5 linked regions of the Homo sapiens genome follow. The protein of the gene in region 2 purifies or fractionates together with the protein of the main gene of each other region. This does not show direct contact. Each region holds a gene or a part of one and is shown on either strand. Other genes may lie near its edges.

Region 1 (5,991 bases), on a different chromosome or scaffold from region 2:
GGCACACACCTGTAGTCCCAGCTACTCAGGAGGCTGAAGCAGGAGAATTGCTTGAACCTGGGAGGCGGAAGTTACAGTGAGCCGTGATCATGCCATTGCACTCCAGCCTGGGCGACAGAGTGAGACTCTGCCTCAAAAAAAAAAAAAAAAAATGAAAAGAAAAGAAAGAAAAGAAGAGTGGTGTGAGAGCTAAACGTACCTGGAGTTTAAGTCTACCACTTAGCAACCCTGTGACCTTGGGAAAGTTATAATCTCCCTGAGCTTTATTTTCCTTATTTTGTAAAAGAGGCCAGTAATTTTTCAATATTGTTATGCAAATTAACATAGTATATCTATTTTCTTTTTCTTTTTCTTTTTTTGAGACGAAAGGCTCTGTCGCCAGGCTGGAGTATGGTGCAGTAGCACAGTCATGGCTCATTGCAGCCTCAACCTCCTGGTCTCAAGTGATCTTCTCACCTCAGCCTCTTGAGTAACTGGAACCACAAATGTGTACCATCATGCGCAGCTACTTTAAAAAAAAAAAAAACAAAAAAAACACTTTTTTTTTAGAGACATGGTCTCACTATGTTGCCCAGGCTGGTCCATTTTCATTAATGATAGCATTTCACAGCAACTAACAGATCTGAAAAATAGTGGCTTAAACAAGATGGACTGGCATGGTGGTTCCATTTTGTTACCAGTGTTCTAGGCGCCTCTGTCATAATATTGGCAGCACAGCTCTTATCAAAACTTCTGTGTATCAGGGAGGAAAGGGGAGGAAAGACAAAAGGTGCTTGCCAGCTGATTCACCTTTTTTAATTAACAGAACTTTCCCAGGCCTGTAATCCCAGTGCTTTGGGAGGCTGAGACAGGAGGATCACTTGAGGCCAGGAGTTCAAGACCAGCCTGTGGAACATAGCAGAACCCATCTCTATAAAAAAAATTTAAAAATTAGCCAAGTGTGGTGACACACACCTGTAATCCCAACTACTCAGGAGGCTGAGGTGGGAGAATCACTTGAGCCCAGGAGTTCCAGGCTGCATGAGCTGAGATCACACTTCTGTACTCCAGCCTGGGCAACAATGATACCCTATCTCTAAAAAAAAAAAGATAGAAAAAAAGAAAAGCCGGGTGCGGTGGCTCACACCTGTAATCCCAGCACTTTGGGAGGCCAAGGAGGGCAGATCATGAGGTCAGGAGATCAAGACCATCCAGGCCAACATGGTGAAACCCCATCTCTACTAAAAATACAAAAATTAGCTGGGTGCGGTGGTGCGTGCCTGTAATTCCAGCTACTCAGGAAGCTGAGGCAGGAGAATGGCTTGAACCCTGGAGGTGGAGATTGCAGTGAGCCAAGATTGCGCCACTGCACTCCAGCCTGGTGACAAAGCGAGACTCCGTCTCAAAAAAAAAAAACTTTCCCAGAAGACCCAGAACTTAGTAATGTGACCACTCCTTACCTACAATGGAGGGTAGAAAATGTATTTCAGCCACATTGCCACCCTTACTAAAATTAGATTTCTCCGAGTAAGAAGAATGGCTCCTAGGAAGGTATTTCACAGTTTCTGCCAGGGTATCTATTAAGAGTACTATGTCTGGGAGTTGCTTTTATAAATCAGTGGGAAGTCAATTTGTCTGTTCGTTCAACAAATAATTATCATGCTTAATAAACCAAGGCACAATTCTAGAGTTTGTTCTATTTAATAGTTTGGATGCCAAATTAGGTTAATTAAAAATAGAGGACTCCCAGTCTAGGTAACATAGTGAAACCCCGTCTCTACAAAAAAATTTAAAAATTATCCAGGTGTGGTGGCTCACACCTATGGTCCCAGCTACTTGGGAGGCTGAAGTGAGAGGATTGCTGGGCTCAGGGTGTCAAGGCTGCAGTGAGATCTAGACAGATCTTTTCTTTTTCATTCCATATACATGTATCTAATTTACACATTAATAATAATCAAGGAGAAAAGAAATATTACAACATCTAGTAGTTTTTTTATGTTTGTAAATAACCCAGTTTCCCTCTTATTTTCTCCCTTAACCAACATCATTCAAAATTATTGTTCAGTTATTACCAGGACTCATTTTACTGGATTTGCGACAAAACTGTAGAGTTTAGAACAAAGATTAACCTTAGGTTCATTAATTCCTTGTTTGTTGTATACAGATGCACACACATTTTTCTGGGAAGATGATCCAGTAACTTTCCTCTAGTTCTCCAAGGGGTCCGTTTCCCATATACTTGACTCTACTTAACTGCCTCAGTTCTACCTGCTGGGTTTTTTTAACTTTTTACCTGAGACCTATGTTTTCTACCTCCTCTGTTTCTCTTACTGACCTAGAAGGTGGGATAGCCTTTAAGACTTATAATTTAAAGACTTAAATGTCTATATTTAGGGGTAAAATCAAAATGTTTTGGTTGAAGTACCCATTTTGTGAAAATGCAAAATAAAATGCAAATCTGCTAATTTTTTTTTTTTTTTTTTTTTGAGACAGAGTCTCACTCTGTCGCCCAGGCTGGAATGCAGTGGCGCCATCTCAGCTCACTGCAAGCTCACCCTCCTGGGTTCACGCCATTCTCCTGCCTCAGCCTCCCAAGTAGCTGGGACTACAGGCGCCCGCCACCGCGCCCGGCTAATTTTTTGTATTTTTAGTAGAGACGGGGTTTCACCATGTTAGCCAGGATGGTCTCAATCTCCCGACCTCGTGATCCGCCCGCCTTGGCCTCCCAAAGTGCTGAGATTACAGGCGTGAGCCACTGCGCCAGGCCTACAAATCTGTTAATTTTTTAAAGTACATACCAGTGGTTGAGAATCCCTAATCTGAAAATTAAAAATTAGGAACTTTTTGAGCACTGACATGATGCCACAAGTAGAAAATTCCACATCTGACCTCATGTGACGGGTTGCAGTCAAAATGCAGTCAGATGACCAGGTGCAGTGACTCACGCTTGTAATCCTAGCACTTTGGGAGGCCAAGGCGGGCAGATCACGAGGTCAAGAGATCAAAAGCCACTCTTTCTTAGCAAATGTTTTAGACTGAAATTTCCAAAACTTGTATTTGAAGAATAGCTCTCAATATATTTTTTCTTGGTGGTAACATGAAGTGGGATTGCTGGAGGCTGTTAACTGTCAGTCTTCTCTTCTCCTATTTTTATTACTTCTTGTTGTTATCCAGAAGCAAAAAGTAGAAATGCCATAATTAGGCCAGACGTGGTGGCTCATGCCTATAACCCCAGCACTTTGGGAGGCTGACGTGGGCAGATCACTTGAGGTCAAGAGTTTGAGACCAGCCTGGCCAATGTGGTGAAATCCCATCTCTACTAAAAACACAAAAATTAGCTGGGCATGGGGGCATGTGCCTGTAGTCCCAGCTGCTTGGGAGGCTGATGCAGAATTGCTTGAACCTGAAGGAAGAGGCTACAATGAGTCGAGATAGTGCTACTGCACTCCAACCTGGGCAATGGAAGTGAGACTCCATCTCAAAAAAAAAAAAAAAGAAAGAAATACTATAATTAAACAATTAACTGCTGGGCTTGGTGGCTCATGCCTGAATCCCAACACTTTGGGAGGCCAAGGCGGGCGGATCACCTGAGGTCAGGCCAGACCAGCCTGGCCAACATGCTGAAACTCCGTCTCTACTAAAAATACAAAAATTAGCCAGGCGTGGTGGTAGGCTCCTATAATCCCAGCTACTTGGGAGGCTGAGGCAGGAGAATTGCTTGAACCCAGGAGGAGAGGTTGCAGTGAGCCGAGATCACACCATTGCACTCCAGTCTGGGGGACCAGAGCGAGACTTCATCTCAAAAAAAAAAAAAACAAGTACAAAGTGGAGTGGTCACCTACTTTAGGACTCTCATTGTAGGGCAGTATTGCTAATAGTGTCATCTACATACTTTCTCCATGTATTTCCTGTAGCAAAGAAATCTTTATGACTAGTGTGTTGTAATAAGACATACATATTTGGACTTCATCCGTGGTTTCCAGCATAGTTCTTTTAAAAACCTTGCAATTTCCTGAGTGACAGGAGTGAAAGGAATATTTTATTGTTCATAATAAACCCCATTCAACCATACCTGAGTTTATGCTAATGAGGTGACTCTTGGTGGGGTTCTAGATAGCTTCAGTATGGAGGGCTGGTTGCCAGAGGAATCAGCCATGTATTTTTAGAGGGGTGGAACATTCAGTGACCTCCTATTCTTGACCTCTGGGAAGGAGAGAAGGGCTGGAGATTGAGTTCCAGTCACTAGTGGCCAGTGATTTAATTAATCGTGCCTACCTAATGTGCCCTCCGTAAAAACCCTAAACAGGGTTTGAGAGCTTCCAGGTTGGTGAACACAAGTAGATACTAAGAGGGTAACACACCCCGAGAAGAGCATGGAAGCGCTGTGCCCCTCTCTCAGACTTTGCCCTATGCATCTCCTCCATTTGGTTGTTCCTGAGTTGTAACCTTTATAATAGCCCATAGTAATAAATAAAGTGCTTTCCTAAGTTCTATGAGCCATTTTTGAAAATTATTGAACAGAGCTGGGGGGCATGAAAAATCCCAAATTATATCATGGTTAGTCAGATAGTACAGATCACAATCGGGACTTGGAACTGGCATCCGAAGTGGTAGGGGCTGTCTTGTGGGATTAACCGGGGTCTCTGTTCACTCCTTGTAGTTAGTGTCACAATTAAATTATAGGGCCAGGTGTGGGGGCATGCATTTGTAGTCCCAGTGAGATCCTGTCTTTAAAAAATTAAATAAAATTTTGAAAAAATAATCAAGTTGTGGGATACCCAGAGAATTGGAGAACTGGGAAAACCCACACATTTGGTGTTGGAAGTATGAAAGTGTAGAAAAACAGTTTGTTTTCCCTTTAACTGGTTATATTAGTCCCATTTGTAGCTGTTCTCTGTCACTGTATGAATGGGGTAGAATATAATTTTAGGTACTATGGTGGAAATATTCCTACCCTTTGTATTGTTGACTAAGGGCATAAAAGTAAATTATTTCTGAATTTTGATCCATATCTATGATGGAAAATCAACATTTTGTTGTACATTCAACTAGAGAACTCAGAGATCTGTAAGACTTGATTATTTTTTAAGGAGACTGTAATTGTCATAGATATGGATATCATGTTTCAATTTAAGGAAATTTTCATATGTTATGTTGTTTCTCTTTCAGGGTAATAGATGGTCTGGAAACTCTAGATGAGTTGGAGAAGTTGCCAGTAAATGAGAAGACATACCGACCTCTTAATGATGTACACATTAAGGACATAACTATTCATGCCAACCCATTTGCTCAGTAGCTATGATAGACCTGGACAAATAACTTGACAAATTGCTGGAACACACTTATTGTGGTTTACCCGGTTTTAATTATGTCAGAGATTGCATCATCCTTCTGCTTGTTTACAACTATGATCTTCTATGAAATGGTGGTACCAAGGGGCGCCCAACAGCTTTTATCCCCATTCTTAGAGCATATTCTTTATTATAATGATTATCCAACATATTTCTTTAATTTTAATACAAAAAATACATCATTTAATTTTTGTTACATATGAACATTCATTTTTAAATGCTCAGCCTCAAGTGCAGGCATTTTTGAGTGGCCTGATTACATATTCCTCCCACAGCAAGTCCGTATCCTGGAAGTGTTATTTTATAATAAAATTTAAAAAGTTTTAAAGAATTAAATCGTAGGACAAATTAATTAAAATATTGTGTAAAATTACCTTCAGGCTATGTGTATAAGGTATATATGAAACGTAAATGAACTTCATGTTTAAATTTGGGTCTCATCTCCAAGATATCTTATTATGTATATGCAAGTATCCCCAAATCTGAAAATTTGGGTATTCCTGAAACTGATACTAACGGTAAGAGCTCTACCATTAATTATTCACTTTATACAGTTAGAAAGAGGAGGGACAGGATAAAAAGTTAGTCTGGAAAGGCCAGCCAATCCATTTGCTATTTTCTCTGATTTTTTTTTTTTTCTTTTTGAGACGGAGTCTTGCTC
Region 2 (5,991 bases):
ACTGCTGAGACATGTGGATCACCTGAGGTCAGGAGTTCGAGATCAGCCTGGCCAACATGGTGAAACCCCGTCTCTACTAAAAATACAAAAATTAGCCAGGCGTGGTGGCACATGCCTGTAATCCCAGCTACTTGGGAGGTTGAGGTGGGAGAATCACTTGAGCCCAGGAGGGAGAGGTTGCAGTGAGCTGAGATCACGCCACTGCACTCTACCCTGAGTGACAAAGCAAGGCTCTGCCTCAAAAAAAAAAAAAAAAGATTGAGACCGAATACTCAGTAATTTGCTCTTTGCCATGTATCAAAAGACCCGTCATTAATTTCTAAATCCAGCTTTGCATTTTTATTAAGGTCTAGCAGACATCATTTAAATACATTTTAACAATGTTTCCCGGCTCTTCCTCCTAGTACTCATTAAAAGATTCATGATTTTCGTAACAATCAGGGCCAATAGATAATTCTACCTTGAGTTCATCAAACCGGAGTGTGAAATGAAGAATTTCTGCAAACTGTTTAGCAAGAGCCTGCTCTCGCTCTAGATGCTGGGTGGGAGAATATGGGGTACTTGTTAAGGCTCCCAGAAGACCTCTTAATGCTGCTTCTAAAGAAAAAAATTGAAAAAAACATTAAGTTGTTTGTATCTGTGTGATATTTGTTTATTAAAAAGTGAACAATTCATAAATGTTAATTCCCAGAAAAGTTCTCTTTAAAAAACAGATGATCTAAACATAATAAAACTAATTAAGAAGTTTAAATGTTGCCATTGCTAATGTACTACACACATTCTGAATACTATTTAACAGAATAAAAACCTTAAACGGACTAATTCAAGGGTTTATAATTCTGTAAACCCAGATTGAAAATAGTGCAGAAGTGAATTTGAATTCAACACCAAAGGGCAAGTTTTATATTACTTTAATCACTTCACACAGTGTGGAATTTGGTTTTATGAAATGGTAACTATTATCTACAGCTGAGTAACTTTCTTCAATGGCACTGTGTCCACACTGTCTGTATATGCCTATGAATCAATTACCAATTTCTCATACTTTGAATACATCCTTTATTTATAACCACAAACTGTTTGCTTTCAGCTACTAAAGAGAACAAAATATGTGGTTCAATAAGCTTCTTGTCTTAGAACTTGACATTTCAAGACTACAATATAAATATTCTAATTCATTATGTGAGCAAAATGGTCCCTTTGAAATAAGTGCTACTTTTGGGATGCCAGGCTAATAAATACCATGTTTGATAATGGAAATACTAAATACTAATACTAATATTAAATACTAAATACTAATATTTCATTTCAATATTTCAAAAAGCCATAGAAATCAAATGAATTCAGTTACAGATCACAGAACTGGAAAATGCTGCTAGATTCTGGTCAGAGAAAATAAGAGCTTACAGAGTTAAACTATGATCTGATGTTAATAAATGTCAGATTAACAAACAAATATTAATGATAAATTTAAAACTTTATGTCAGGTCATCAGCCCGTAACTTTAAAAAAACCCCAGTTTTCCTATTTATGAAGATTTACGTATGAGTCAACATCTACTGTACACTGAATATAGTCTCCCATTTGATTTTTACCATCAACTATGACATGGTCATTCCAGATGGATCAAATGAGTTTCAAAGAACTTAGAGCCCAAAGTTATAGCTAGTAAATGCTAGGTATTTCTGACTCCAAAGCCCTATTCTTTCTACCACAATAAACTGTCTCTGAAATAAAGCAACATTGTACGTAGCCTCTGTAACTTTATAAAACATTAACCTCCTGATTACTACCAATAGTACCAATTACTTCTGTAACCCTACAAAACATTAATCTACTGATTAAAAACAATAGTAGGTACTTCCTGTGTGTCTGTCAGATACCAGGTACTGAACTATTTCTTCACAGACATTATTTCTCATCCATGTAATAACTCTAAATGACAGCTATTATCCTTTTTTTTCCAGTAAGTCTGAAAATGTACTGACTGGCTACTCTGTGCCAAGCACTGGGAAAATGGATGTAGACAGACATGCTCCCTGTGCCCATATGGAGCCTTATTATATAGAGAGAAGACAGACAAATGATTACAGCTGTGATATGTGCTGAAAATAAGTACAGTGGAAAGGTATAAAAATAAGACCTCACCTAATGGAAGGCCCAGGAAAAGATCTCCCTGAATAAATGACTCCTGGACTGAGACTGAAGTATGTAGTAAGGATGAACATGAGTTTGCAGACAGAAAGGCAGGAAGCCAGACCCTGAACTGAGAAGAGCATGACATACTTGAGGAACTGCAACACCACCAATATAGGAGCACAGAGGGCAAGGAGGAGGGTAACCAGGACTAAGATGATTCATACACATGTAATTTGTGGACCACATTAAGTACTCGGGCTTTGGCATCCTAATGTCCCTAGAGAAATCATCTAAGCAGAGGAGTGGCGTCAGCAGATTCGCATTTTAAAATGCTACTTCATTTGCAGTGTGGAGCATGGACTATAGGGGTATGGATGGTGTATCAAGGTGTAACAGTGGATGTGAAGAAGATCAATTAAAAGTCAAACATTTTGGGTTATATTTTAAAAATGGTTTACTTCTCCCAAGATTCATTCTTTCTGTTGGTGTTAACTGGAAAACTAAGTAAGAGAGACACCGAACAGAAAAAAACATTTTTACAAAATATTATTATAGTCTGTTAAAGAAAAAAAGAAAAATGCATCTGCCTAGACTTTATCAAGTCTCAGGGTTAATTTCAGCATTCCAAGTTCTCTACCACTTTTGGGACTGGAGTCAGGTCGCTTGACTAAGTTGGGATGGTCAGTGACCAGTAGTTGCAGAACTTTTGTCTATGAATGGCTGAGGCCCTCCATGGTAGATCTATGTTGAAAGGGAAGCTCAAGATGATAAATCTGCTAATCTGCCTTTGAAGCAGCTAGATCAGCCTCACCCTGCAGGCCTGTGCTGGCACAAGTCAGTCCTACTAGCCTACAATGCTCTGTCTCAAGAGAGAAACTGGAGACAATCCCACAGAAAATGTCCCAGAGGTCTCTGGATGAGTTGGAGAGAAAGAGAGGACAAAGAAAAGATGCCTGGGATTGGACTCAGATGAAGCTCCTAAAACAAAACCATGAGATTATGATTTTTTAAAAAGCAGATGACCAGGAGAAAATTAATAGTCTATTAAGCCCTAAGTTCTGGAAGAACCAAAGGAAGCTGGCAGATGAGTGCAGGAGCCAAAACCACAGAAGGAGGTTGCAAGGAAAAGACAACTAGAAGGAATGATAAAGATGACAAATCAGTCCACAAGCTAGGACAGGGAAGAATAACTAGTTGATTAGGAAGAGGAGGCCCCTGGGGAGAGTTTCCCTATAGAGACAACAGTCGTTTATTCTCATCAACTGCCATCTATCTACTCTCAAACTCTCAGAAGAGAACCTGAGGACATGGATTCTAAAGGATTTAAGACAACCAAGAGTCATGACCACAATTAACGGTGGGCATTTGGGGCCTTTAAAATACATTTTGATAAATTCTGCCCAGTGAAACGAAGCTAACATGTTGAAGGGACTTATTATGACCCTTGGAGGCAGTCCCTAATGTAAGCCCCTAAAGCATGAGCAAGACTGAGGGGAGACAAAGCAGTTTGTCCTACTACCTGACCATACAACCTTCCCTTAGGTATCTGCCTCAACAGGAGGGGCTCCAAGGCCTCAGAACAAAACAAGCAAGTACAGAACAAGCAAGTATGGCAAGTTTACTGTAGGGTCCAGCCCCACAGGGTCGGTGGGTTTCTCCCCGTGTGCAGAGACGAGAGAGTGTAGAAATAAAGACACAAGACAAAGATAAAAGAAAAGACAGCTGGGCCCGGGGGACCACTACCACCAAGACGCAGAGACCGGTAGTGGCCCCGAATGCTAGGCTGCACTGATATTTATTGGATACAAGACGAAGGGGCAGGATAAGGAGTGTGAGCCATCTCCAATGATAGGGAAGGCCACATGGGTCACATGTCCACTGGACAGGGGGCCCTTCCCTGCCTGGCAGCCAAGGCAGAGAGAGAGAGGAGAAAGAGCGAAACAGCTTACATTATTATTTCTGCTTATCAGGGACTTTTAGTACTTTCACTAATTTGCTACTGCTAACTAAACGGCAGAGCCAGGTGTACAAGATGGAACATAAAGGCGGACTAGGAGCGCGACCACTGAAGCTCAGCATCACAGGGAGATGGTTAGGCCTCCGGATAACTGCAGGTGGGCCTGACTAATGTCAGGCCCTCCACAGGAGGTGGAGGAGCAGAGTCTTCTCTAAACTCCCCCGGGGAAAGGGAGACTCCCTTTCCCAGTCTGCTAAGTAGCGGGTGTTTTTCCTTGACACTGAGGCTACCGCTAGACCACAGTCCGCTTGGCAACGGCCATCTTCCCAGACGCTGGTGTCACCGCTAGACTAAGGAGGCCTCTGGTGGCCCTGCCTGGGCATAACAGAAGGCTCGCACTCTTGTCTTCTGGTCACTCCTCACTATGTCCCCTCAGCTCCTATCTCTGTATGGCCTGGCTTTTCCTAGGTTATGATTATAGAGCGAGGATTATTATAATATTGGAATAAAGAGTAATTGTACCAATTAATGATTAATGATATTCATATGTAATCATATCTAAGATCTATATCTGGTATAACTATTCTTGTTTCATATTTTATTATACTGGAACAACTCGTGTCCTCGGTCTCTTGCCTCGGCACCTGGGTGGCTTGCCGCCCACATTTACCAGGGCAGTGTAGTTAAACCCTGTCAGCAAAACTGAGTATCTTCAAATTAAGCAGGTAATCCTTGCCCTGTCCCATTGTAAGTATGCAAACTGGCAAGGGATCAGGGTCCTTCTTCTGAAGTATAACCCATGGTGTATCTGTAGTGCTCAGGCCAAGAAACCTTCTCCTTAGAACTGCAAGATTCTGAAGGATCATGTGTGTCTTCATAGTTGCATGCTGCTCCATGGTGCTGTTTGTGCTGGAATAGCACCCATGATGGGACACACACCACGAGACCGATTAATTCCCATGGTAAAAATATAACACTTAAGTCCAACTAGTTTGGCCTATTTTACAATTATTCTTTGTGTATTGGGATATGCTAAAAGACCAAGATGAGCTTGAATAGCATCTGAGCACCATCAAAAGCAATTTAACTATAAATGCAGCCAGAAACCAGCGTAAGAAAAGCTGTATATAGTAGAGAAGACAACCAAGACAGAAAACCTAGGCTGATTGGGTTATAAAGTGCAAAGCTACAAACTATAGAGACTCTTGATTGAAAGACAAATACTGTAAAATAACTAATACTAAAATTGGGAAAATAAATTACAATTCTTATTTCCAGTAAGAAAAAGATAATTTATACAATATTTCTATCCAAACTACTGTCTGTCTTAACATTACATTTAACAGGCTGTACTGCATCTAAAGGAAAAACAGCAACTGTCTTACTTTTTTTTAAGAACATAGGCATTTTTAAAAAATGGAACTTCAACTTCAGAAGTTACAAATACAAATGGCCAAATAGCAAATATAAATATAGTAAGATATTAAAAAACATGAAGCAATAAAAACTTATTACAAACTAGAAAGCACAAGTCCTAACTAATGGAGGCAGAGATGGTTTGCCATGTGGTTCTGGCTCTCTAACATGCAGATCAATTATTGCTAGTTGGAGGCTTAAAGAAAAAAAAAAAAAAAACCATACAGTGACCAAGTGTTAAACCTGGCAACTAAGTAGAAATTTTCAAAATTATGTGGGCCAGACAAATCACATCTCTCAAGTCTAAATTTAGCTTTTGGGTCCCCAGTTTGACTTCAGTCTTACAGTATATACCCCCTGGTTTCTGGCTTATGTATTTAAAAAACAATCACAGTATGATTTTCTTATGATTAATTTGTAATGTTTATACATTTCAAAAATTCAAACTATATGGAAGTACGTGTTTTAACTACATTCAA
Region 3 (5,991 bases), on a different chromosome or scaffold from region 2:
AACCCTGCTCTAGGCCAGGCGCGGTGGCTTGTGCCTATAATCCCTATAATCCCAACACTTTAGGAGGCCGATGCGGGTGGATCACTTGAGGCCAGGAGTTCAAGACCAGCCTGGCCAACATGGAGAAACCACCATCTTTACTAAAAAAAAAAAAAAACAAAAAAAAAAACAAAATTAGCCGGGTACGGTGGCGTACGCCTGTGATCCCAGCTACTCGGGAGACTGAGGCACTGGATCACTTGAGCCCAGGTGGCAGAGGTTGCAGTGAACCAAGACTGTGCCAAGAAAAAAAAAAAAAAAAAAAAGCCCTGCTCCATGGCCTGCCCAGCTTTCCTTGGCAGCAGGGCAGGAGAAGCCAAAGAAAACTTCTCTAGGAGCCTGGAAAAGGACTGATTCCTATCCCAGCCTCCTCAAAGGGGCACCTCAAGAAGAAATGCACATCACAGTGGGGAGTGAGACTAGGCACAATTTAATCACAGCCTCAGCATCAACCCGTGGGAGCACAGCACAAAGAAACAACCAACCATGGCTTTGTAGAAACAGACATGCCAGGCTCTTCACTGAGGAGGAGGAAGAAAGGCATGGTGACCAAACCAGGCAGGGGTAAGGCAGAGATATTTACAGTCCTACAAGTGTCTGCTTGTCAGATTCGGCCAGCACTGCTGGGTTCTTAAACCCTTGTACCCGCCTTACCACTGGAATCCACCGATGGGTTCTGCAAACCTGTGCCGGATCAGGAAAGTGGCAACAGCTTCAGCTACCTGGAAATGGGAGAGATATTCCAGGCCATATAAAGGTTAGTGATGGGGCTTAGCCTTGGGCTGTGAGCTACTGTTAGATGGTTAGGCTCTACGGTGCCCTCATCCCACCCACAGGTCTGAGTGGCTTGAAATTAAAAGGACCTAGGCCCTCCCTAGCAGAGCTAGAAGACTCCTCCCCACTATCCTTGCCAGGGATAGCTCCATAGAGCTCAAGAGGAATGACGTGAAGGGCTTATGTGTGCCCTCAGAGTTACAGAATGGTGTTTTCTCACAGGAGGAGCCCATATTAATTCCTAACTGTGCCTGTGGTTTAGGGAGCAGTTTCTACCCTAATCATCCCTCTTCCATCTCTGGCTTTTGGGGGTATTGGAGAAGTAGAGCTTAAGATCTTAACCACAGGGCCCTGGGATGAAATAGCAGAGTGTCAGTAGCTCCTCAGCACATATACACAAAACCAATACCATAAGCAGCTGCCAGGGAGAAGTTGGAGAGCTGGTGGAACTGCATCTGCATAGGCTCCACAGCAGCTGCTGCAGGCAATGCAGGCTGAGACTCAGAGACTTGTCTTCTGTGACATCCAGGGTTATTCTCACAGTTGTCCTTTTACAGTCACTGAGCACCAGACTCACCTTGTCAGGGGCATCCTCATGGACTGCATGGCCACACTGGGGTAGGACCTGCATCTGGAACTTCCCTGGAGAGGAATCAAAGCAAGGCAACTTCAGCGACTAAAAGAGCCCTCTCTTATGCAGCCTCATAGGTCATTCCAGGAGCCCAGGACCTACCTCCCCATTTCCAACCTCACCTCAATACTCTGGACCCAATTATCAAGTCTTGCTGAGGATGGTAATACAAGTAATTGTAACCTTGCGCCAATCATTTCCCTTCACTTTTTCCTTCTGTCCTATTTAGTGTACATTTACTGTGGGCCAGAGACACATAGAAGAAACAGTTCTTGTCCTCAGGGGATTTACAGTCCAGTAGGGGAGTAAAACACAAAAACCAACATTTTAATGCAGCATGTCATTCCTATGATAAAACTGGCTACATGGGGCTGTAAGAGCATAAGAAAGGGAACTTCACAATCCAAGAGGGAACCAGGAAGGAAGGAAGGCTTGAAATGGCTTGGAATACAAGAAGCTTGGCATGGTGCTTATGAGAGTGGTTAACAATAAGGCTGGAGAGGTAAGCAGGGGCCAAACCATTAAGGATTTTGTAAGCTATGTTAAGGATTCAAAATGTATTATTACAATAATAAGTTACCATCTGAGCACTTAAGCATGTGCCAGGCATTGTACTAAGCACTTTCTCATACTGTCTTACAGAACACTGTAAGCTCGTAACTAATGCGACAATGATTGAGAATGAACAGCGATGACTGATAAAGAAGATCCCTAAGGAGACTAAAGGATATGAGACCCAGAGCCCCCATAAGTAGAGACAGCAGATTTTCTCAGCCTCAGATTCTCTATTTATAAAATAAAGGAATGGGCTTGAAAGTTCTTCTGGTCATTACATCCTGTGGTTCTTACCCCAGTTACGCAGGATTCAAAAGTTTTCAGTGTATTCTTCTATCCATTTTTAAAGTTGATTCTCAAAATCTACCCTATACAATTAAGCACAAAAATACTGAAATTCTTTTCTGAGATGATGAAACTGAGGCCATGATTAGTGAAGTAACCTGCCCAAGGCCACTTCATTAATTAGTGGAGGAATAAGATGATCCCATTTAGTAAAGTCCATCCTGTGCCCCTCCTCCTGCAGTAAGCTGCCTCTCTCTGGGTGCTCAAGCCTAGTCACCTCTCCCTTCTAGCTCCTAAAGTTGTTAATGCACTTGGATCCAAACACAGAGCAGCACATGGCCCTCTTGTAAGTTTCAAGTAAGTTTACATTTTACATGCCACTGGTGCTTGCCTCCCCAGGAGTGTGTCATTTCCATAAGAACAGGGGACAATGGTGTTATTACTTGCTCTATATCCCTAATAAGACCTAACACAGGGTAGGGCACTGAGTAGATGCTTAAGTCTTTAGCGAATGAATGATGAACAAATGACTAGATCCAAAACTTACAACTCCAATCTCCCTGTTCTTTCTGTTAGATCAGCTCTGATGACTAGGGACGCATTTGTCCTTCCTCTTTGGAAGAGTAGGTATAATCAGAGAGAACTCACATACACCAACAACACTGTGCCAGGTACACATAAAATAACATGTTCATGGGTAATCCTCATGATTATTCTATGAGGTGGGAATATTTCCAAACTCTTCTCTCCCATTGCACAGATTAGGAGCCTTAGGTTCAGAGAGCCTAAATTATTTACCCAAGGGGTACTATGAATAGGTGGTAGTTTTCCAGGATTTCATAACTAAGTCAGTTGGTTTGAACACAGTGCTGGCAAAGCTGTGGTTTGGAATCTATGCAGCCTTAGCCATTTCCCTTTGTTCTGTGGAATGTTCCTTATCCTCGCCATTTACTCTCTATACTCATAGGAGGCTTTCTTTAAACCAGAAGGTGGTCTTGATATAATCCATATTGAGGAAACAGGAGGACATCTCATAAGGAATCGTGATTACTTCCTGAATATAATGAAAGGCATCATTTGTTAGACTACCCGCATTTTTTTCATTTAAACTTCATGTAACTGTACTGAGATATATCATTATCTCCATTTCACAGATGAAGAAACTCAAAATTAAATAAGTTAGGAATTCACTCATACCGCAAAACTATTAACAGTGATTCAAACCCAGGATTGTCTGATTCCAAGGCTGGTGATCAACAATGATTTCAAATGCTATCCCAGTCCATGTCAACTGCCTTCAGGCAGTCTCAGGGGCCATATCTGATTCTTCTGTCTGCCCAGCATCATGCATAGGTCTTGCACAGAAAGGGTGCCTAGGAAAGGTTTCTTGAATTGAACTTAAGTGTCTTAGATTCAATTTCATGGCACTCATGTTGGTAATTACGGGCTTAGACATTTATAAGCATCTACTTAAATAAGTGTCTAAGCCCATAATTACCAACATCAGTGCCATGGAAAAAAAATCACACAGTCCCAGCTCATAGTCCTATTCTAGGCCTCAGGATACAATGTAGTTAAAGGAAGGCAAAGCCATGAAGGTCTGGGACCAGAGTTTTATATGTGAGAGCCTTTGAACAACTATTATGAGAGAATATAGCTCCTTTTGCTGTGGAAAGCTTGAGGATAGCTAAAAGAACAGTTTGAGAGGCCCATGAGATATCCAGCAGGTTTGCTACATAGGCTAGGACTGGATCTCAGGAGAGAGGGGTGAGGTGGATGTTTAGCTTTGGGAGTCATCAATATATAAATGGAAGCCATGAAATTGTCCAGGGAGAGTAAGTAGGGAAGAAAGGTCTAGAACAGATTCTGCCTGAGCCTGAAACTTTGGTCTTGGAGTTGGCACCTCTTCTTCCCATAACCCAAAAGTTGTATGCCTACTGGCTTCACCTTCACTGAGTCTTTTACCCGTACTAAAGCAAGAGCCCCCACAAAATTGGACCCGCTGCCTCCACTGTTATCTAGCTAACATACATGCATCTGTATACAGTGCTCAGCATGTCACTTTCCTACTCATTATACCCCACGATCTGTTTGAGGCTGCCATCAGTTTTTTCATTTTCCAGATTAAGAAGACTAAAGCTGAGGCAAGTCAGATAACTTGCCCAGAGTCAAAAAATTACTGGAAAAGCAGTATTCAAAACTCAGTTTTCCGAACTTCAGAGACCTTACTTTTACCATCTTACCATGCTGTCTTCTAAACAGGTATTTATACCTTTTTATATCTGGATTATCTTGAGCCTTTCCCTTTCCTAAAACTTCTAACAATAAGAAAAATACTGGCCAGCTGCAGTGGCTCACACCTATAATCTTCGCACTCTGGGAGGCCAAGGCAGGTGGATCACTTGAGGTCAGGAGCTTGAGACCAGCCTGGCCAAAATGGTGAAACTCCATCTCTACTAAAAATACAAAAATTAGCTGGGCGTGGTGGTGCATGCCTGTAATCCCACTACTGGGGTGGGTGAGGCCCGGAACTGCTTCAACCTGGGAGGTAGAGGTTGCAGTGAGCCGAGATTGGTCCCACCGCACTCCAGCCTGGGCAACAGAGTGAGACTCCAATTCAAAAAAAAAAAAAAAAAAAAAACCCACAAACAAAAAACTGATCAGTAGTCAGAATATCTCTTTTCACAGTATCATACACCTATACAGTACTTTATAATTTTTAAACACATTGCCTCATTTTAACTCTTATAACTGAGACATAGGTAGTAGTATTATAATCTTCATTTTTGGATGGATTTTTTTTTAAACAAATTAAAGCTCAGGAAAGGGAAATACTTGCCCATAATCATATAGTGTGTTAGGAGTAGAGGCGGATGTCCAACTTGGGTCGGACTCTAAAGCTCATGCTTTCTCCGTTATACCTCACTATCTCAGGATGTTAACTGCCCTATCACCCTTTCTTCAGAAAAGGGTCCAGGGGTATAATTTCTTGATAACTTACCTTGCATCTGGCCAATGGTCAGATCTTTATCCAATCTATCAACACCTAGAAAACAAGAGAATTCATTGTGAAACAGATTTTGCTGTTCACGTATTAAGTAAAAAGTGTTACAAAGTTTTAAATATGATGACATTCTCCATTCATGTTTATACCAATCCTAACTCCCAGAGCATACTCTCACCACCAGATAAAACTTTTCAGGTTGAGATTCCCCTATAATTACTATGTTAAACTGGTTCTGAAAACAAGGTTTTACTATTTTAATTCTCATAATAATCAGAATATCCTTATACCACTGCATCTAGCTCTAGACTAAGAAGGACTTGAGCTTGACCAAGTAGACAGGCCAGGCCAGAATTAGGTCATCCTTTATGCTTAGATGAATGCTTATGCTTAGTTAGGTTTAGAGACTGGGTGTGGGGAGGAGAAAAGGCATAGATGAATGAGGAAGGTACTCTACTTTGGATGTCACTACTCATTTGGTGAGAAGTTTTAATGAGGTCATATTGAGATGACAATATACCAACACTGCTATGGACTGAGTTGTGTCCCCCTAAAACTCATGTTGAAGCCCCAATTCCCAATGTGACTGTATTTGGAACTAGGGCCTATAAGGACGTAACCTCAGGTCATGAGGGCAGAGCTCTGACATGATAGGATGAACGTCCCTAATTAATATCCTTAAGAGAAGAGACACCAGAGAGCT
Region 4 (5,991 bases), on a different chromosome or scaffold from region 2:
AGTATAGTGGAGCAATCTTGGCTCACTACAACTTCCGCCTCCCTGGTGCAAGCAATTCTCCTGCCTCAGCTTCCCAATTAGCTGGGCTTACAGGTGTGTGCCACCACTCCTGGCTCATTTTTGTATTTTTTTTTTTTTTTTTTTTGAGACAGAGTTTTGCTTTTGTTGTCCAGGCTGGAGTGCACTGGCACAATCTCGGCTCACCGCAACCTCTGCCTCCCAGATTCAAGCGATTCTCCTGCCTCAGCCTGCCGAGCAGCTGGGATTACAGGCATGCGCCATCACACCTGGCTATAATTTTTGTATTTTTGGTGGAGACAGGGTTTCACCATGTTGGCCAGGCCGGTCTCGAACTTCTTACCTCAAGTGATCCACCTGCCTTGGCCTCCCACAGTGCTCGGATTACAGACGTGAGCCACCGTGCCTGGCTTTTTAATTTTTTAATAGCTTTTATAACTCCCAGAATGTTCTCTGGTACCTGTTTGCAGTAGCTCCCCACTCCCTTACCCAACCAAGCAACTGTAGAGCCCTCTTCATGCCTGTGGCTTTGCATATTTTAGATGTCATTTTAGATTCTCTTCAGGGTAATAATTCAAAGCTTGAAGATGGTGCCGAGCAGGCAACGTGGGCACCACACAGGAGCAGGTCCCTCTCTGGTACTGGCTTTGCTTAGGTCCAGGTGGCTGGTGAGTGGCTCCCCTGACCATGTTGTGACAGCCACTCTGGACACTGAGTCTGACCCTCTCCTCTCTCTTCTTAGCTCCCTTTTCCTCATCTCGTGGTGTTGCACCCCTGTGGCATCAGTGAGGCCTTGGTGCTCCTGTTATTGGGTGACATTGGTGCCTTTGCTTGGCTGGGTGATCAACAGATGAGCCCTGCACCCATGTCCAGATGGCCCCAAATTTTTTTTTTTTTTTTTTTTTGAGATAGAGTTTGGCTCTGTCACCTAGGCTGGAGTGCAGTGTCACAATCTCAGCTCACTGCAGCCTCTACATCCTAGGCTCAAGCCAGCCTCCCACCTCAGCCTCCCAAGTAGCTGGGACTACAGGTGCACGCCACCACACCTGGCTAATATTTGTATTTGTTTTTAGAGGCAGGGTTTCACCATGTTGCCCTAGCTGGTTTCGAACTCCTGAGCTTGAGCAGTCTGCCCACCTTGGCCTGCCAGGGTGCTGTGATTACAGGCGTGAGCCACTGCACCCAGTCTGGCCCAAGAATTCTAACCTCTGAGCGTCTAGCTGAAGATCTTCCTGTGTGTAGTGGGCTAACAAGGCTGCTCAGATTTTGGAACAGAATCATGGACTTCACTGGGTGTCTGTCCAATAACTTTGAAGAGATAGAAAATATAATATTTTGCAAGTGCCAAAAGATAGAGGGATGCAGTTTGGGATGATGAAAAGAGCTCTGGAGATGGATGGTGATGGTTGTACAGAACTGTGAATGTGCTGAATACATTTTAAAATGGTGGGCTGGGGGCAGTGGTGCACGCCTGTAACCCCAGTGCTTTGGTAGGCCAAGATGGGAGGATCCCTTCAGCCTAAGAGTTCGAGAACAGTCTAGGCAATAGGGCAAAACTCTGTCTCTACAAAAAAATATAAAAATTAGCTGGGCATGGGCCAGGCGTGGTGGCTCACGCCTGTAATCCCAGCACTTTGAGAGGCCAAGACAGGCGGATCACGAGGTCAGGAGATCGAGACCATCCTGGCTAACACGGTGAAACCCCGTCTCCACCAAAAATACAAAAAAATTAGCCGGGCACAGTGGCGGGCGCCTGTAGTCCCAGCTACTCAGGAGGTTGAGGCAGGAGAATGGCGTGAACCGCGGGGGGCAGAGCTGGCAGAGCCGAGATTGTGCCACTGCACTCCAGCCTGGGCGACAGAGTGACACTCCATCTCAACAAAACAAAAAAATTAGCCAGGTATAGAGGTGTGCAGCTGTAGTCCCAGCTACTTGGGAGGCTGAGGCAGGAGGATCACTTGAGCCCGGGAGGTCAAGGCTGTAATGAGCCATAATCACACTACTGTGCTTCCAGCCTTAGCTGGAGACCCTGTCTTGGGGGAAAAAAAAAAGGATAAGATGGGAAATTTTATGTTATATGTATTATTTGGCCACAATAAAAAAATGTTTTAAGAGAAAAAAAAAGATGGAGGGAAGGAAATTTGGCAAAGAAATAACAGAATTTATTTTGTAGAGTCTTGTGCACTTGAACCTCAGAAGCTTCTTTTTTTTTTTCTTGAGATGGAGTCTCGCTCTGTCGCTCAGGCTGGAGTGCAGTGGCACGATCTCTGCTCACTGCAAGCTCCACCTCCCAGGTTCACGTCATTCTCCTGCCTCAGCCTCCCTAGTAACTAGGACTACAGGCACCCGCCACCATGCCCAGCTAATTTTTTAATATTTTTAGTGGAGACGGGGTTTCACCGTGTTAGCCAGGATGGTCTTGATCTCCTGACCTCATGATCCGCCCACCTCGGCCTCCCAAAGTGCTGGGATTACAGGCGTGAGCCACCGCACCTGGCGAACCTCAGAAGCTTCTAACCTGCTTTTTTTCCCTTTGAATTTCAGGTCACAAGAGGACCAGATTAAAAATGCTATTGATAAACTTTTTGTGTTGTTTGGAGCAGAAATACTAAAGAAGATTCCGGGCCGAGTATCCACAGAAGTAGACGCAAGGTAAGGATGCTTGCTCCTGCACTGGATGGGCTGGTCAGGTGTCCACAGTTGCACACGTGGATGCCAACATGAGGTCAAGGGGCTGCTCCACCCATGGTCTTCATCCCAAGGGCCCAAGAGGAGGTTTATTTTGAGCTCTCCCACAGTTGGTAGTGATGACCAAGAGCTCCTTGTTTAGCAACTGATCTCTAGTGTTTTTTATTTTTATTTTTATTTATTTTTGAGATGGAGTCTCGCACTGTCACCCAGGCTGGAGTACAGTGGCGCAATCTCAGCTCACTGCAACCTCTGTCTCCCGGCTTGAAGCGTTTCTCTGCCTCAGCCTCCCAAGTAGCTGAGATTACAGGCACCTGCCACCATGCCCAGCTAATTTGTTGTATTTTTAATAGAGATGGGGTTTGACCATTTTGGCCAGGCTGGTCTTGAACTCCTGACGTCATGATCCACCTGCCTCGGCCTCCCAAAGTGCTGGGATCACAGGCATGAGCCACTGTGCCCGGCTGCTAGTGTTTTTTGTTTTGATTTGTTTTGTTTGTTTTTTGAGACAGAGTCTCGCTCTGTTGCCAGTGTAGAGTGCAGTGGTGTGATCTCAGCTCACTGCAACCTTCACCTCCCGGGTTCAAGCGATTCTCCTGCCTCAGCCTCCCAAGTAGCTGGGACTACAGACACCCGCCACCATACCCAGCTAATTTTTTTGTATTTTTAGTAGCGACAGGGTTTCACCATGTTGGCCAGGATGGTCTCGATCCCTTGACCTTGTGATCTTCCCGCCTCAGCCTCCCAAAGTGTTGGGATTACAGGCGTGAGCCACGGCACCTGGCCCAGTGTTTTTTAATACAAATTATAGCCTATGGATCCCACTGAGGACCTCTGTTTGTGAGACTGGGTGTGAGTTGCTGTCAGAGCCATTCTGCAAACCTCCAGTGAGGGGAAGGTTGAGGGCAGTGGTTGGTGCTCACGGTGGTGCTGCTCAAAACTGACAGGCAGACACCCGGCCTCCAGCTTGCTCTGCGTGGTGGGCAACCTGCGTGATCTGAGGGGATGGGTTCTTCTTGCTCCTACAGGCTCTCCTTTGATAAAGATGCGATGGTGGCCAGAGCCAGGCGGCTCATCGAGCTCTACAAGGAAGCTGGGATCAGCAAGGACCGAATTCTTATAAAGCTGTCATCAACCTGGGAAGGAATTCAGGCTGGAAAGTAAGTGGTCCCCCACAAGGAAGGAGCTCTCAGAGATTTTTCCTCTGTTGGAGCAGGGTCTACATGGCATCAGGCAAGTTTGACTCTCTCAGCCCTGGGGAATGCCAGACTGGGGAGCACAGCCCACAGCTTGGACTTGACCAGCTCATGTCAGCCTAGATCTGCCCTCTGCTCCAGAGCCAGCTCCCTCACTTGCTGGTGATCAGAAATGAGGGATTTCCCAGGAAGTACCATCCACCCACTCAGCAGAGAAGAAAAGCCACTAGTTAGCACCTGCAGATTCAGATTCTGTCCTTCCTCTGTCCTGATCAACACAAGCCTATGTTTACATGATTTTTAAAAAGTAAACTATTGTTATATAAAATATATGCTGGCTGGGCAAGATGGCTCATGCCTGTAATCCCAGCAATTTGGGAGGCTGAGATGGGAGGATCACTTGAGCCCAGGAGTTCCAGACCAGCCTGGGCAACAAAGTGAAACCTTGTCTCTACAAAAATATAAAGAAATTTTAGGCTGGGCACGGTGGCTCCCAGCACTTTGGGAGGCCGAGGCGTGGGGATCACGAGGTCAGGAGATCGAGACCATCCTGGCTAACACGGTGAAACCCCGACTCCACTAAAAAATATAAAAAATTAGCCGGGCATGGTGGCACACACCTGTAGTCCCATTTAGGAGGCTGAGGCAGGAGAATTGCTTGAACCCAGGAGGCGAAGGTTGCAGTTAGCTGAGATCACACCACTGCACTCCAGTCTGGGTGACAGAGCAAGACTCTGTCTCAAAAAGAAAAGAAAACTTTTAGGCCGGGCACGGTGGCTCATACCTGTAATCCTAGCACTCTGGAAGCCTGAGGTGGGTAGATCACCTGAGGTCAGGAGTTCGAGACCAGGCTGGCCAAGATAGTGGAACCCCGTCTCTACCAAAACTACAAAAAATTTAGCTGGGCGTGGTGGCAGGTGCCTGTAATCCTAGCTACATGGGAGGCTGAAGCAGGAGAATCACTTCAACCTGGGAGGTGGACGTTGCAGTGAGCCGAGATTGCACCATTGTACTCCAGCCTGGGTGACAGAATGAGACTCCATCTCAAAAAAAAAAAAAAAAAAGAAAAGAAAAACTAGCCCACCCCTGTGATTCCAGCTACTTAGGAGGCTGAGGCGGGAGGATCGCTTGAGCCTGGGAAGTTGAGGTTCCAGTAGCTATGATCGTACCACTGCACTCCAGCCTGGGTGACAGAGTGAGACCCTGTCTCAGAAAAACCAAACCAAACATATGTACGTTCAGAGTGGAAGAGACAGAAAATGTATAAAACAAAGTAAAACTCCTCTATGATGTTCTCACCCAGAAGCAGCCAATGCTATACTCAAATAATTCGCATCAGGAAGAGGTGTTTTGTTTCCACATCTGTGTGTCTGCATGTTCTACCACCTGCCATCACTGACCTGCTCTGAGATAGCATCTCACTTTTTCACCACGGCTGGAGTGCAGTGGCACGAACTTGGCTCACTGCAGCCTTGACTCCAGGCTCAAGCTATCTTTCCACCTCAGTCCCCCAAGTGGCTGGGATGACAAGCACACATACCACTCCTGGGTAATTTCACCACGTTCCCCAGGCTGGTCTCGAACCCCTGGGCTCAAGAGATCTCTACCCATCTTGGCCTCCCAAAGTGCTGGGATTATAGGCATGAGCCATTGTGCCTGGCCTCATTTGTGTGTTTTTTTGTTTTTTTTTGTTTTTGAGACGGAGTTTCATTCTCGTCCATGCTGGAGTGCAATGGTGCTATCTCAGCTCACTGCAACCTCCACCTCTGGGGTTCAAGAGATTCTCCTGCCTCAGCCTCCGGAGTAGCTGGGATTACAGGCAGGCGCCACCACTCCCGCCTAATTTTATATTTTTAGTAGAGATGGGGTTTCTCATGTTAGTCAGGCTGATCTCAAACTCCCAGCCTCAGGTGATCCGCCCGCCTCGGCCTCCCAAAGTGTTGGGATCACAGGTTTGAGCCACTGCACCTGGCCGGACCATTTGTTTTTATATGTTGGAAAATACTCCATTTTATGGATAGGCCACAGTTATTCATCTGTTGGTGGACACCTGGTCAGTTTCCATCTCTTGAGCTGTGATGTATATTGC
Region 5 (5,991 bases), on a different chromosome or scaffold from region 2:
GCCAGGAACCTCACATCCGGGTGCTGGGGCCACTGTACTCCCCACTTGGTGACAGATGGACCAGTTTCCCTCCCGGTCTCTAGGGGACTTGTCTCTTCCACCACTGGATAAACCCTGCTTCTTCCAGAATCTCTGCTGTCCCAAGGACAGCTTTAGCCACATGTCACCTGAGCCAAGCACTCAGCCCCTAGTGTCCCCATCCTCCTTGCTAAACCGCTTTCTTCCCGACTCTAGGGCTCTAGGGAGTTTAGTTTTTGGTGAAGGAGGACACTGTGCAGCTGTGAACTGACCAGAACTTGTAGACTTACAGAGAACATCTGTCCAGGGGCGCTCTGCACTGTGTGGATGACTGTCTGGGTCTGGAAGAAAGAAACCAGGTCTCACCCAGGCTCTCACGTGTGAAAACCACCAGCTCCCACCAGAGGGCGCCACACGGCAGGCACCCTCCAGGGGGCGTAACAAGCCCAATGGCCCCACAGACCCCACAGAGGGTGGGCCCAGGTGTCTCTTCTCTCAAGGGGATGAGCGAGGGGCAAAGGTTAGAACCCTGGAGAAGACAGATGGGGACGCTGGTGGCTCTGGCCCATCTTTCCTCTCGGGGAAACGTCTCTCAGCCTAGCCTCCCTTTGCAGGTGACAGAAGTGAATGTGGGGCATGGTCTTCCGTGGCTGCCCACGGGGTGGCAACTCAGGTTGTTTCATCCAACCCCCACATCCAACCCCCAACCTCACCAGGCCGGGCAGATGGTCAAGGGTCTGGTCTGTGCCCTCCCCACTCCCAATGGGAGAGGCCCAATGCCTGGCCCTGCCTCCTCCATGAGCCCAGAAAAGCCAAAATGAGGACGATCCAAAAAGAAAGCAAGAGACTTACAATGGGAGCCGGGTTGGCAGGCCACACGCCGGGAGGCTGGAGGGGTGAGGAGAGTCAGAATGGTGGTTATCGCGGGCACCACAGAATGGGAGGAGATGGTGGCAAAACTCCAGGGAGGCTCTTGTGCTCAGAAATGCCTCCCCGGACACACCCACCTCCCTCTTGCTCCCAAGCAAGCCTTCCTGAGCCCGTGGCACCCAGATTTTTACCCCCAGGTGTACAGGGCTTTGGGGTTGGGGGGTAGGGTATCCCCACTGGTTCCTCTCGAGAGAGAGGAGACTGGGTTTGATAGAGACCTCATTGCTTTCTGTAGCTCCCACAGCGAAGAGCATTACTTCCAGTGCCATATTTCACCCATAAGGTGAGAAGTGGTATTTGTTGAAGGCCTATTGTGGGTCGATTCCTGGGCTTCAGTGCTTTCCAACAAGGGAAGCAGCCTCAGCTCCTGTGTCCCTAGTGAGGCAACGAGGCTCAGAAAGATTAAGCAACTTGCCCAAGCTTGCCAAGGTGGAAGGGATCAAATCCAAAGTGGCAGCCAGTTCTGTCTGACTGTATCCAGCACACTTTCTATCCTCCCCAGAGCCAGGGCCAGCGCCAGGGCCAGGGCCAAAGTTGGGCTGCCCTGCAAATGTTCCCTGGGGCTCGACCAGTCCTGAAGTCAGCGTGGCAGGAGGCAGGTGCCCTGTCTGTACGGTGATGAGCCATAAGAAGACTGCGTAGACAAAGCGCCCCTCCTCCCAGTCCCCACTACTTGAGTGGCCGGAGGAAGGGCTGCTCACCTCCTTGTCCTGGATCCTGCCCCACCCAGTAGACTGTTCTTGCCCTGGCTGGTATCCCATTCTCCCTGGCTGTGTGAACCACATTCCACATTCATTCACTGAGTCCCTACTGAGTGCCAGGCACAGTGCAAATGAACAAGCCACAGTCCTGGCCCTCTGGGGCCTCATGGGCATAGGGACATGGGGGTGGAGTAACGGGGACAGACACGCAAATACAGTTACAATGGGGTGCTGTGAACTGGCATGGCACAGATACATACAGACTCTGTGGGGACACCAGGGGAGCGTCCAACAATATTCCAGGCGGGGAGGACTCCCAGAGGAGCGGCACTTAGGCAGAGCATGGAAGGGCAATTAGGCATGTGCTCGAGGCAGGCTGGCAGAGGGTGCTTCCGGGACCAGGGACAGCATATGCAAAAGCATGGTGGCCCAAGAGGGCCTTGAGTGAGCTGCAGAGGCTGCGTGAGCTTCGTGGGTTGGGGGTGAGGCAGGGACGTGGATTGGGGCAGACTGGGGAGGAATTCATATACCCTGCTGGAGAATTTGGGCTTTATTTGAAGGGCTGGGGGCTGTGAAGATTTTTAAGCAGGGAGAGGGTGTGATCACATTTGCTTATAAGAAGGTCACTGTGGCAGTGGTTGGGTGTAGGGGGTGGGGAACTGGACCCCTGTCGTCATGGTGAGGAATCCCAGAGGCCTGGACCACATCGGTGGCTTCAGGAGGGAGACACGTTCGTGCCTTGGAGAGACGTAAAGAAGAGGGAGTGAAGAATCCAGGGTGACCCCCAGGTCCCCAGCTCTGGGTGCCCAGCGGACAGAGACAGGGAACTCTTGGGTGGGCAAGATGCGGCCTGTAGGCCCTGAGTGGCCTGCTGGCTGGGGCCAGCCTCTCAGACCCTCGGTCCTTCCTACTGTCTGCTCGGCCACCCAGGGCCTCTGTGTTGAACTCACTTTTTGTCTGCGCCCCCTGGGCCTGGGTGGGAAACAGACAGGCTGGGAGAACGGCACCGTGGAGAAGGCAGGCTGAACAGGGACTGTGCGGGGGTTCTGTTAAAACAAAAGGCACCGGGCAGTGAGGAGAAGCATTAATAGAGCCAAGGAGAAGCCGAAAGGCAGAGGCAGGGGCAAGAGGGAGAGACCAGGCAGGCAGGGCGATGAGGCAAGGGGGTTAGGGCCCTGCCAAGATGGGATGGGAAAGAGCCAGGCTCTGGTGAGCAGTGCAGGGGTGCGGTCTCCCTCCAGCTCTTCCCTCCCCTACCACCCGCAGGGGAGAGAGTCAGGGAAGGAGGGAATGAGAGATGAGGACCAAAGGGCGAGAAGCCCAGATTTGCTGAGGGCCTACTGTGTGCTTCGCTGATCTCAGGGAGCAGCCTCGAATGCCAAAAGGGTAACAGCAGCTCCCACCCAGCTGCTGGTGCCCTGTGGGAATGTGGGCCCAGCATACCCTAATCTTCCCATTTTTCACATGGTATTGGTATCTCCTGACCTTATTTAGTTTTATTTATTTTATTTTATTATTTAAACAAAGTTTTTTGGAGACAGGGTCTTGCTGTTTTGCCCAGACAGAACTCTAATTCCTGGGCTCAAGCAATTCTCCCACCTCAGCCTCTTGAGTAGCCAGGACTGCAGACCTCCACCACCATACCTGACTCTCCTGACCTTTTAGATGTTGGCAACACATTCAAAGTTGTTAAAACACAGAGGTCAAACAGACCCTGGTGTGGGCCCAGGGGGGCCACTGTGTGACCTCTGATATCTGTCTCCTCACTGAACCACACAACCACCCATGGGGGGCAGGCAATGACCATTCTACAGATGAAGAAACCAAGGCTGAGAGAGGTGAAGTTGCTTGTCTAAGATCCCACAGATGATGAATGGCAGAGCTGGGAATTTGAACTGGATTCAGTTTGGTTCTTGAGCCTGGGCTCTTTCTAGAACAATATGCCCTCCTTACCAGGATGGAAACTGAGGGATGAAGAGAAAGGGGCAGCTGAGGAGTCTGGGAGACCAAGGCAGGTGTTCCGGACAGAGACAGTAACACAGAAGGAGGGGCAGAGTGACAGAGGAGAAGGGGCGGGCAGGTACTGGGACAGGGAAGCAGAGGTTGTCCCCAGAGTGACCTGGGTAGGAGATTGGCTTGGGCCCACCCAGCAGGGCTTAGACACAGCTACGCTGGGCCCTGCATCCCAGCCCCTGGGACCGGTGCCAGGTGGACAGTCTGACCTGGAAGCTGATGTAGGACAGCTGCACAGAGCCATTGACGGAGATGGTGTCCACACGGTGGAAGGGCACGCGGTGGAAGTACTGCACGAAGAGGATCCCGTTCACCATCACCTGCCAGAGGAGAGCACATGTTCTGGGGGAGGCATCCCAGGCTGGGATGGGGACCACCCCTGAGCTCCTGGACCCTCTTTCTAGAAAATGAAGACCTGAGTCTGGTCTTCAGTGTGGGGCCAGTTACAGGAACGTGTGTGTGACCCAAAGTGCATCAACCCGAGTCTCTACCAGGCTCCAGTTGGACTTTTCGTTCTTCTGGTTGTTTCCTGCAGTAGGTTTGTCTTTCTAGTCTTAGCTCACCTGGGGTTTCATTTATTAATTATTTATTTTTCCTTCAACTGTTTTTTTTTGTTTTTTGAGATGGAATGTCAGTCTGTCGCCCAGGCTGGAGTGCAGTGGGTCAAGTGATTCTCGTGCCTCAGCCTCCCGAGTAGCTGGGATTACAGGAGCCCACCACCATACCCAGCTAATTTTTGTATTTTTAGTAGAGATGGGGTTTCACCATGTTGGCCAGGCTGGTCTTGGACTCCTGACCTGAAGCGATCCGCCCTCCTCAGCCTCCCAAAGTGCTGAGATTATAGGCGTGATCTGCCATTTCCATCCCCTTCAACTTTGATTTTAAGTTCCAGGGTGCAAGTACAGGATGTGCAGATTTGTTAACTAGGTAAACGGGTGCCATGGTGGTTTGCTGCAGAGATCAACCCATCACCTTGGTATCAAGCCCAGCATCCATTAGCTAATCTTCCTGATGCTCTCCCTCTCCGACCAGGCCCAAGGGTGTGTTGTTTCCCCCCATTTTGTCCATGTGTTCTCATCGTTCAGCTCCTACTTATAAGTAAGAACATGTGGTGTTTGGTTTTCTGCTCCTGCGTTAGTTTAAGGATAAAGGCTTCCAGCTCCATCCATGTTCCTGCAAAGGACATGATCTCATTCCTTTTTATGGCTGCAGCGGTATTATTTATATATGCATAAAATGCTCATGGGGAGCAGAGGAGAGGTGACCTCAGGTTGCATACTGAACGAATGGGGACATCCTTATCTCAGATAAGCATACTTGGACTGACTTACCCACAGGCTTCTCAAGCCCAGAGACCTACTCTGCTTGCAAGGGTAATTTGCAATGTGCTTACAAAACTATACCCTTAATAGACCCTGGATAAAGGCTGGAACGATGTCGCTGAAAAATAAATGTTACCAGTGACCTGGAGAGGAGGAATGGCTATAGCAGAGGAATGGAATGAGCTTGGAATTCAAAGACACACAACACCAAATAGCAACGTGATGACTCCTCTAGTTCTTATTTTCAGAGTAAAAGAAGCAGCAGGTGCACCTGTAGATTCAGATGAAGGTGCATAAGGAGACTAGGCAGCCATGGGTAACACCTCACAAGGAAATGAGCGTGTTATCTGTATAGTGGTGTCACTCTGGCTGAATGTCAATTTAGGTGATTACTTAAAGGCCATTCACCTGATAGGGCTGGGGGTCCCAGGGGTGAGAGGTGGGGAGGGGATTCTTGCTCACCTTGAAATCTGAGCTCTGCACCAGGAAGCAGAGGTCAAAGGGCATCCCCTTCTGGAAAGGCATGTGTGTCTTCCTCTCCTCGGGCCCCCAGCTTCCGTTCTGCCTCGTGTTGCACACCACGTACCCTCCATCTTCAAACCGAGGGTTGAAGTGGAAGGCAATGTCATTTCCACTGAAGCCAGTCTGAAAGTTCACAGCAAACCTAGGCCCAGGGAAAGCAAATAGTCTTCTGTGGCATGGATTATTGCCAGTGACAGGCACAGGAGGGCCTCGGCGCCTGTGCTTTGCATTTGTCTGGATCTTGCACACAACCTGTATGGCAGAGACTGCTTTGTTGGCATCGTTTTTGTTTTTCTAATTGGGATCTAATGTGTTTTTGTTTTAATTATTGGATTTTGCCTTTACAGCATGATTTGCTAAAAGCAAATAGAAAACGGTTAAGGAAAAGTGCTGGTATTAGCAAACAAGAAACATAGGTCTTGGAAAGTGATTACCAATTGATACCGAAGATGGAAGTTGTTAAGCACACCTAGAAGAGAGAGCCT

What was found.
Region 1: the proteins of CYRIB (region 2) and PPIL3 fractionate together in Homo sapiens (co-fractionation; one large-scale study listed by BioGRID). This does not show direct contact.
Region 3: the proteins of CYRIB (region 2) and PPME1 purify together in Homo sapiens (affinity purification with mass spectrometry; one large-scale study listed by BioGRID and IntAct). This does not show direct contact.
Region 4: the proteins of CYRIB (region 2) and TALDO1 fractionate together in Homo sapiens (co-fractionation; one large-scale study listed by BioGRID). This does not show direct contact.
Region 5: the proteins of CYRIB (region 2) and LGALS9 purify together in Homo sapiens (co-immunoprecipitation; one large-scale study listed by IntAct). This does not show direct contact.

Annotation. Positions count from the first base shown.
Region 1 is NC_000002.12:200,870,679-200,876,669, reverse strand, and holds the end of PPIL3 (peptidyl-prolyl cis-trans isomerase-like 3), read left to right. Parts: intron 1-5,148; coding exon 5,149-5,275; 3' UTR 5,276-5,763; downstream 5,764-5,991. UniProt on the Homo sapiens protein: PPIases accelerate the folding of proteins. It catalyzes the cis-trans isomerization of proline imidic peptide bonds in oligopeptides. May be involved in pre-mRNA splicing.
Region 2 is NC_000008.11:129,855,151-129,861,141, forward strand, and holds part of CYRIB (CYFIP-related Rac1 interactor B), read right to left. Parts: intron 598-5,991; coding exon 461-597; intron 1-460. UniProt on the Homo sapiens protein: Negatively regulates RAC1 signaling and RAC1-driven cytoskeletal remodeling. Regulates chemotaxis, cell migration and epithelial polarization by controlling the polarity, plasticity, duration and extent of protrusions.
Region 3 is NC_000011.10:74,246,418-74,252,408, reverse strand, and holds part of PPME1 (protein phosphatase methylesterase 1), read right to left. Parts: intron 5,331-5,991; coding exon 5,286-5,330; intron 2,264-5,285; exon of another isoform or gene 2,087-2,263; intron 1,456-2,086; coding exon 1,391-1,455; coding exon of another isoform or gene 1,151-1,390; exon of another isoform or gene 779-1,150; intron 762-778; coding exon 694-761; intron 1-693. UniProt on the Homo sapiens protein: Demethylates proteins that have been reversibly carboxymethylated. Demethylates PPP2CB (in vitro) and PPP2CA. Binding to PPP2CA displaces the manganese ion and inactivates the enzyme.
Region 4 is NC_000011.10:756,388-762,378, forward strand, and holds part of TALDO1 (transaldolase), read left to right. Parts: intron 1-2,562; coding exon 2,563-2,670; intron 2,671-3,734; coding exon 3,735-3,866; intron 3,867-5,991. UniProt on the Homo sapiens protein: Catalyzes the rate-limiting step of the non-oxidative phase in the pentose phosphate pathway. Catalyzes the reversible conversion of sedheptulose-7-phosphate and D-glyceraldehyde 3-phosphate into erythrose-4-phosphate and beta-D-fructose 6-phosphate.
Region 5 is NC_000017.11:27,640,229-27,646,219, reverse strand, and holds part of LGALS9 (galectin-9), read right to left. Parts: intron 5,649-5,991; coding exon 5,447-5,648; intron 3,983-5,446; coding exon 3,872-3,982; intron 2,696-3,871; coding exon 2,600-2,695; intron 2,388-2,599; coding exon of another isoform or gene 2,262-2,387; exon of another isoform or gene 2,185-2,261; intron 907-2,184; coding exon 871-906; intron 360-870; coding exon 309-359; intron 1-308. UniProt on the Homo sapiens protein: Binds galactosides. Has high affinity for the Forssman pentasaccharide. Ligand for HAVCR2/TIM3. Binding to HAVCR2 induces T-helper type 1 lymphocyte (Th1) death.